Homo sapiens: one gene and its partner. The protein of the gene in region 2 purifies or fractionates together with the protein of the main gene of each other region. This does not show direct contact. Each region holds a gene or a part of one and is shown on either strand. Other genes may lie near its edges. The genes, in order: BMAL1 and PASD1.

What was found.
Region 1: the proteins of PASD1 (region 2) and BMAL1 purify together in Homo sapiens (co-immunoprecipitation; one study listed by IntAct). This does not show direct contact.

Annotation. Positions count from the first base shown.
Region 1 is NC_000011.10:13,378,667-13,382,476, forward strand, and holds part of BMAL1 (basic helix-loop-helix ARNT-like protein 1), read left to right. Parts: intron 1-2,494; coding exon 2,495-2,588; intron 2,589-3,810. UniProt on the Homo sapiens protein: Transcriptional activator which forms a core component of the circadian clock.
Region 2 is NC_000023.11:151,562,443-151,566,756, reverse strand, and holds the start of PASD1 (circadian clock protein PASD1), read right to left. Parts: upstream 3,083-4,314; 5' UTR 2,918-3,082; intron 1-2,917. UniProt on the Homo sapiens protein: Functions as a suppressor of the biological clock that drives the daily circadian rhythms of cells throughout the body. Acts as a nuclear repressor of the CLOCK-BMAL1 heterodimer-mediated transcriptional activation of the core clock components.

The DNA of each region.
Region 1 (3,810 bases), on a different chromosome or scaffold from region 2:
TATCCAATCCAAAATGTTAGTAGTGCCTAGATTAAGAAATCCTGCCTTAAATAAAGAAGCTAAACCAAAATAGCCCAGCGCTAAAGAGAATTCTTGAGAAGACTTAACTTTCTTATGGCTCAAGGAGCTTCTCAGTGCGGATAGATGTACCTTTACTTTACAGGAATGCAGGAGTAGAGCTGTGAACTATCAGAGTGATCTGGACCTTAACAAAACATTCACTTTTTTTCAATCAAAGAGCTGCCCAGGATTAGTACTAGAAACCAAGCAGATCAGCTAGTTATTACTAGCTGTCTTGGGAGAGACTTCCTTTCCATATGAAAGAGAAGGAGCTTAGAAGCAGTCCACCTGGGTCTGAGTCCTGGGCCTGTCTCTCTACCTGGCTATGCTGAGACTTACTTAACCTCTTGCTCTCTGTTGATTTAAACCATAAAAAGAAAGCACTATTTCCCAAGAATTGTGTTAGGATTGTGAGGGCACTCAGGAAAGTTCCAGGAACACAGCCTGACATATAGTGAGTGCTTAAAAATTAATTAAATCTGTCTTTAAGAGCAGTCGAGAGGGAAGCAGTTATCATAAGTCTGTCCAAATTTGGGGAATAGAGAAGGTGGTAACCAGATTCTTCAGAACGAAACTTAATGTAACATAAGAAAAGGAAGAAAACACTGCTGCCGCTGGATTCTCTCAGGAGAATTAGAGGCTGGCCTGTTTTCCAATTGGCCATAAAGGGGCTGTTATCCCCCTATAGGTAACACAGCTCTTTTCCAACCCCACAGGATTAGTGGGTGTGACTTCTGCATCAGGAAGGAGACATGAGGGTAGTGTGCAGTGTAATCAGGTTCAAACCCTATACTTTGCATTTGCATACCCTGTATTTTGCTTGAGACCATCCAAGAACAGTATCAAACAGTCCTTGACCTCAAGAATTTTAAAATCTTTTATAAGTCTATTTTCTTTATGATAACAGGAAAAAGGGAGGGTGCATGGGCCAAAGCAAGCAAAAGAGGAAAGATTTGAACTTGGCCTTAGCCAGGGTTTGCAATAAGAGTGGATGTTCCCTCTAGAAAAGCCAGGGCTATTCTTGAGTGGGCATGTGAGTGGCAAATTCAGGGTCAAGAAACAAGCTACCTAACTGGGCAGGCTTTGTGTAGGAAGGAGACACAGAGCTATGATAGGCGATTAAGAAACACAAGAAATGATACTGTGCAGTTTGGAAGAAACCTGTAAGACCCCATTTGTTGTAGGATGCTGAACAAGCATCCAAAGTCTTGTGTTACGCTTTGTGGAAGTTGCATTGGAATAGGGAGAGATGAAGGTGGGCATGTTTGACAACTCAGGAATGAGGCCTTATCCTACAGAGATGACACTGCCAAAAGAGAAATCAATCATCTAAGGTCTAGCGTTTGAAGATGAAATCAGGAATGATGAAACAGCAATTCCAAGATGAGAAACCTGGGAAAATAGTGGTTTCATAGACATAAGTAGAGAAAGGTGGGGGACACTCAGCAATTTTTCCGTAAGCAATTAGCAGCCGTTTGTGCATGCTGAGAATACATGATATGTAGTTGTAAACTGCCGTTAAGAAGCTTCTAATCCAGAAAGAAAACTTGTTCACTCATAAATCTAGAGAACTAGGCAGTACAAGAACCAAAAGACTTCTGGGTGGTGGAGGAGTGGTCTCTGGGTCACCCAAAAGCTACATTCATCCATGTAGGAGCTGAGAGTCCTGTGGTTACACAACTGCCATCACACTCTCCCTAAACTGTAGCTGCAATGCCAAGTGATGGATTCTTTCCTGAGGTCCTTCAGCCTGACAAGTATTTAGGTGGATTTACAGTTCTAAGTCTTCCCTTCTATAAATCTTCTGAGAGATATGCTAGATAAGAAAGGCCTGGACCCATTTTTCATCAACCACTGCCTTCGAAGGCTGCTTTTCCTGTCACTACTACTAGGCTACCTTTTAGACCCTGGTGCCGTCCATGTCCTAAGAGTATTCACTAGCTAAACAGTGTTTGTGGAGAAGGGGACAAATTGTTTTCTGTGGATCAAAGATGGAGGTTGATCTTAGAAGTTCTCCTCCAATTCACCTGGATTCTGTGAGGAAATAAAACTGGCCACTTACTTGAAATTCACCAACTGAATGCAAACTCCAATCCAAGGGCTTTGTCAGTGAGATGCTTGACTCTAGGGACTGCATTCTAGATCAGGTGCCTGTAGAACAAATCCAGCTTGTCATCTGTTTTTGTAAATAAAGTTTTATTGGAACACAGCCACACCGATTCGTATCTGTGGCTGCTTTCAAGCTGCAGAGGCAGAGTTGAGCATTTGTGACAAGACACCATATGGCCTAGAGAGCCTACTATCTGGCCCCTTACAGAAAAAGCTTGCCAAACCCTAATCTAGATCTTCATCCCCTTTCTCACCTTTACCCCTTAACAAAGCACATACACTCCACTGAAAAAAGAAAAGGCAGTGTAATTCTCTTTTCTGACAGGATAAGAGGGTCATCGCCTTCTAGCTGTGGCTCCAGCCCATTGAACATCACGAGTACGCCTCCCCCTGATGCCTCTTCTCCAGGAGGCAAGAAGGTAAGACTGATGATTCTTAGCCTAAGCTAGAGAACCTCTTGCCCAAGATCTGAAATGTTGGGGGTGGGAGTATGGAATTGCAACTGCGATTGCTGAAACAATTTGGACTACTTCCTCCTTGAAGTAAATGCATCTGTGTGAGGCTGGATACAAAGCATACTGGTAGGGCTAGGGAGGCTTGCTGACATCCTCAGAGGCTTTCTTCCATGTGAGTGGAAGAAGGGAGAAAGAATAAGGAATGGGGAACTGTCAGTTCATTTAATTGAGGGAGCAATTCAAGAGTTCCCATGAGGGAAAGATTATTGAGTACCTCACATAGAAAAGTTTCTCATTTTCTGCCAGGAATTTTCAAGGGAGAAAATATTAGTGTCTAGGGCAGGCAATGGAAACAGCAATGCCACCAGCAGTGCTTTGGAAATCAAGCCATGCTTTATAGCTGCAGAATACTTGGGGATCTGCTGCCTGGGGGTTCCATTGGTGTGACAGCATTGGATCCAAGCAGTGGATCAATCACCAGCCCTCATGAAGAGCTTGCTATAAGACTACACTATAAATAGGTTTAGGAACCAGTCATTTGTTTTCATCTTTGCTGGAGAACTTATAAGCCTAGGCCCATCTTAATCGTAAATTATAAATCTGTTTATATTGCCTGATGCCAGTAGAGCTTAGGACAGTTTAAAGGCCATCATTTTGGACACAATGGCTTCCTTTCCCCATCTCCTAAAACAGAGAGAGAGAATATCAGGAATTTCCATAGGCAGGACTCCTAGGGCACAAACCATCAAAAGCAGGGCAAGGATTTTCAAAACTGAGCTCCTCGGAGGTTTGTTCAGGTTACCAAGAGCTGTGGTGTTACCAGGTGGGATGGGCGTGGGGATAGTTGCTAAGGAGAGAGGGTAAGAGTAGAAATCCTGCTTCTACAAGGGCAGCAATACTTCTTTTTTATACAGGAATCTTCTGCAAACATTTCTATTTGAAAAAGCGTTTTGCTCCCCCCAAAAAAGGTTGAAAGTTAACAAATTAATGGGTAAGACTACAAAGTAAGACCTGGGTTCGAAGCTTGGCCTTGCCATGTGCTAGTTATGTGAACTTGTACAACTTTCAAGCCCTAGTTTTCTTTATAATGGAGCTAATAATGGTTAGGGTAGCCAGCATCTTTGCACGAGGTCCTACTGTGAGATAATATATGTGAAAGTGCTTGGCCCAAAATACCACTGACAGA
Region 2 (4,314 bases):
TGACACTCAAAGGAAATGCTCACTGAAACATTTTTGGACTTCAGATTTTCAAATTAGGGATGCTCGCCCAGTAAGCATAATGCAAATTACATGTATTCCAAAATCTGAAATCTGATACACTTTTGGTCCCAAGCATTTTGGATAAAGGGTATCAACCTGTACAGGGAATCACTTTCTTAAAATCCTGCCGTGGCTCCCTAATGTCCAAGAAATGAAAGGCAACTCCTCAAACTGATCCCTCCTCTTTCAAAGGTCACAAGGATAGCCACCCTCACCTGGTCACCTCCTGCTTCGGAAAATGCTAGGCATTTTTGCTCCTCCATCATTTTGTTAGTATGTGTGTCTCCCTCTGCCTTCTCCTTCCAGAGTTATTAATCTCATAACTTAAAACCCAATCTAAATCCTCCTCTTTGGGGAAGATGGGCTGAGGCCCTAACCCAGGGTAAATTGATCACTCCCTTCTCTTTGAAGTCCAGTGTCTGGGTTTCTTATTCACATATTATAGCTCAAAGCAAATAATGGGATATAATAATTTGTTTGCACGTTTCTCTGCTCCACTAGCCTATGGACTCCCTAAAAGCTGCATCTTTATTCTCAGTTGCTTTGCCCTGTATCTTAGCTCAAAACGTGCCTCTAACAGAACTTCTGAATATGTGTTGAATGAAATGTTGAAACCAAAACCAGGAGAGTTAAACTACACTTTTATCACAAATTTTCGTTTTACTACCAACAACCAAATGCTCTCCCCATAATCCTAATTACCTTATCAACCCTATCAACTTTCAGTTAAGAGTAGGAGGATTTCTAGTCTAATTCTTATTACCCAAGAAACTGGGTATCTGTGAATTACTTTGCAAAGAAATCTGCCCATAAAGGCCAGCCATTAGAAAGCCACTTCTGGCTGGGCGCGGTGGCTCATGCCTGCAATCCCAGCACTTTGGGAGGCGAAGGCGGGCGGATCACCAGGTCAGGAGATCGAGACCATCCTGGCTAACATGGTGAAACCCCGTCTCTACTAAAAATACAAAAAAATTAGCCGGGCATGGTAGCGGGCGCCTATAGTCCCAGCTACTTGGCAGGCTGAGGCAGGAGAATGGCGTGAACCTGGCAGGTGGAGCTTGCAGTGAGCCGAGATCACGCCACTGCACTCCAGCCTGGTTGAGAGCGAGACTCCGTCTCAAAAAAAAAAAAAAAAAAAGTAAGGAAAAAGAAAAAAGAAAGCCACTTCCCACTGGCTCCTGACTTGCTGGGAAAAGAAAAGGAGGAACAGCCCTCACGCCTGTTCTTTGCTGATGGAAGAAAGGTCCAGTTCCCGCCCCCACATCCTCCCTCCATCACTGCCAACTCTCCTAAGGAAGTGCTAGGCTAATCTCAAAGACAGATGTCTCTCTAAGTAAGTACTGACAGATTGGAGGGCATCTACTGGCTACATTGGCCTGAATACTTTCAAAGTCATGAGTCCAATGCTTTCTGCCCATTCTCTTTAGTTTGGTGGAAAGGATTTTCTTTTGCTGCCTGAGTGTCTTTACCCCTCAGTACTCTCTGTTCTAGAACTGGCAGAGAAATAAGCACAACAAATCTACTTTAGATACAGCTTAACTTACTGAAAGAACTAAGGTTAGAGAAAAGCACAGCCAGTCAGTAGGGATACCTCAAAAAAACCAGGATGCCTGATTCTGTTCCTGGATCTCTTTTGGAGCATGACTTTGCCACCTGCCTTTCCTGGCATATTGTGTGGTGTATGGCATGCATATTACATAATCCAGGGTAGATTAATTTACATTCTTGATTTTATACATTGGAAAGTTATGTTCCCTTAAGATGGATGAGTAACTGATAAATTATTGTCTTATGAGTTGTAATTTTTGAAGGAAGTTTTGATTGAAAATACAGGGTCTTGCTCTGTTGTTCAGGCTGGGGTGCCGTGGTTCATTCATGACTCACTGCAACCTCGAACTCCCAGGCTCAAGCGATCCCTCCCACCTCAGCCTCCTGACTAGTTGGGCACCACACGCCCAGCTAATTTTTTTTTTTTTTTTAATTTTTGTAGAGAACAGGTCTCGCTAAGTCCGCCCTAGCTGGTCTCAAACTCAGCCGTAACCAGTAGCTGAGACTAAGATGCCTGCCACCGCACCGACGTTCGCCTCCATTATCGGTCTTCAGATACATGGCTGCTGGCACTTTCACGCTAATCTGACTCCATTTTGAAAAAACACATTTTCTAAGGTAGCCACAACTTCTGTGCTCTCCGTGTAAGTGTGCCCAAATACACATCCTGACATAAACTCCTCATCATTTGAAATCCAAAAAAGCAAAAAACAAACCCAAAGGACAACAAAAACTTCAAGCAGATCCTTTGAAAAGCCGCTACTGCCCTGAAAATTCTGAAGTCTGAGATTTCACGTGTACAAACTGCTCAATCTGCTGAAAACCAGGCAAACCTCTCGATATACGCGCCCACCCCAGCACACCGTCCCCGACTGTGGTAATGGAGACGCGCCCCAGACCTGCCGGACAGAGCCTGGCGTTCTCACCCGAACCGCCCGCTCAGACCGGCCTATTCGCGACACCGCAAGCTTTCCATTCTTCCCAACTCTGCTTCAATTTCTCGAAATGTCCAAAGAAAAATCAATGGGTGCCTCCTATGGTGCACCTACGATGGTGCCCAATGCAGGAGGAGGTTCAGAATGTGGGGGTCTTCCTCGTGTAACCCCCAGCTACCCGCTGCCACCCCTCTCCTTCTGCCTCATCCCAACCAACCTTCCCAGGATGACCAGGAAAACGAGGGTCCTGCAGGGAATGTCTCTGATGGAGTAGCTTGGGCTCCTCAGCCACCGAGGGACAAAGGGGCTGGCTCCCCGCCGCCACCCCAAGGCATTTTACTTTGCAGTAGCTTTCATTAACGGACTTCACTCACCCTTGTGGAACTCTTCACTGCTGGAGGCCGCAGGGACTTGGGGTACCTTGAAGCTCCTCCCTGTGGTCTCCGGTGAGAGCCCGGGAGCCTGGTGGGCGCCCGGAAAGTCTGGAAATGAGGAGCAGCTTCTAGACTCTTCAGGGAAGTGCGTGGGCCCCAGAGTGCAAAGCGCGTGGTGGGGGCGTGGCAGAGAGGGGAGGCAGGCATGGAGGCAGCGTGGCAGCGGAAGTAGGGGGGAGGAGTGGTAGCATTTTTCCCTAGACCTCGCGATGTTGGGGCCCGAGATAACTACTGTCTCTGGAACTAGGAGTGCAGATAAGCCACTTCAACGTAGCCCTTAGCTTGTCGAGTCAAAGGGTTCCACCCCAATACAGGCTCTCCACCCTCCCTGGACCCCTGAGCACTACCTAAGCAGGACCTAATGGAGCCCAGAAAATGTATGGATCCCAGAAAAGAGGGGTCTTTTTGAGTCCAATCATGGCTCTATTGTGGAACTGAGAGGTGACAGCGAGCTGGCAACCCTCGCAGCCGTCCCTCGCACTCCGCACCTCCTCGGCCTTGGCGCCCACTCTGGCCGCGCTTGAGGAGCCCTTCAGCCCACCGCTGCACTGTGGGAGCCCCTTTCTGGGCTGGCCAAGGCCAGAGCCGGTTCCCTCAGCTTGTGGGAAGGTGTGGAGGGAGAGGCACCGGTGGCAACTGGGGCTGCGTGCGGCGCTTGCGGGCCAGCGCAAGTTCCGGGTGGACGTGGGCTCAGCGGGCCTGCACTCGGAGTGGCCCGGTGGGCCCGCAAGGCCCGGGCAGTGAAGGGCTTAGCACCTGGGCCAGCAGCTGCTGTGCTCCATTTCTTGCCAGGCCTTAGCTGCCTCCCTGTGGGGCAGGGCTTGGGACCTGCAGACCGCCATGCCCGAGCCTCCACCCCCCCCGCCCCCCCCCGACCACCGACACCCCCCGCCCCCCCGCCCCCCCCGCCCCCCGCCCCCCCGACCCCCGACCCCCCGCCCCCCGCCCCCCCACCCCCCGCCCCCCCCGCTGCCCCCTCACCCCAGCCCCACTCCCCGCCCCCCCGCCTGCTCCCCCTGCCCCGGCCGTCGGCTCCTGTGCGCAGGAGCCTTGCGGAGGAGTGCCGCTTCCTGCTCCAGGGTGCCCAGTCCCATCGACTGCCCAAGGGCTGAGGAGTGCAGGCGCACTGGGCGGAACTGGCAGGCAGCTCCACCTGCGGCCCCCTGTGGGATCCACTGGGTGAAGCCAGCTGGGCTCCTGAGTCTGGTGGGGACTTGGAGAATCTTTATGTCTAGCTAAGGGATTGTAAATACACCAATCAGCACTCTGTATCTAGCTCAAGGTTTGTGAACACACCAATCAGCACCCTGTGTCTAGCTCAGGATTTGTGAATGCAC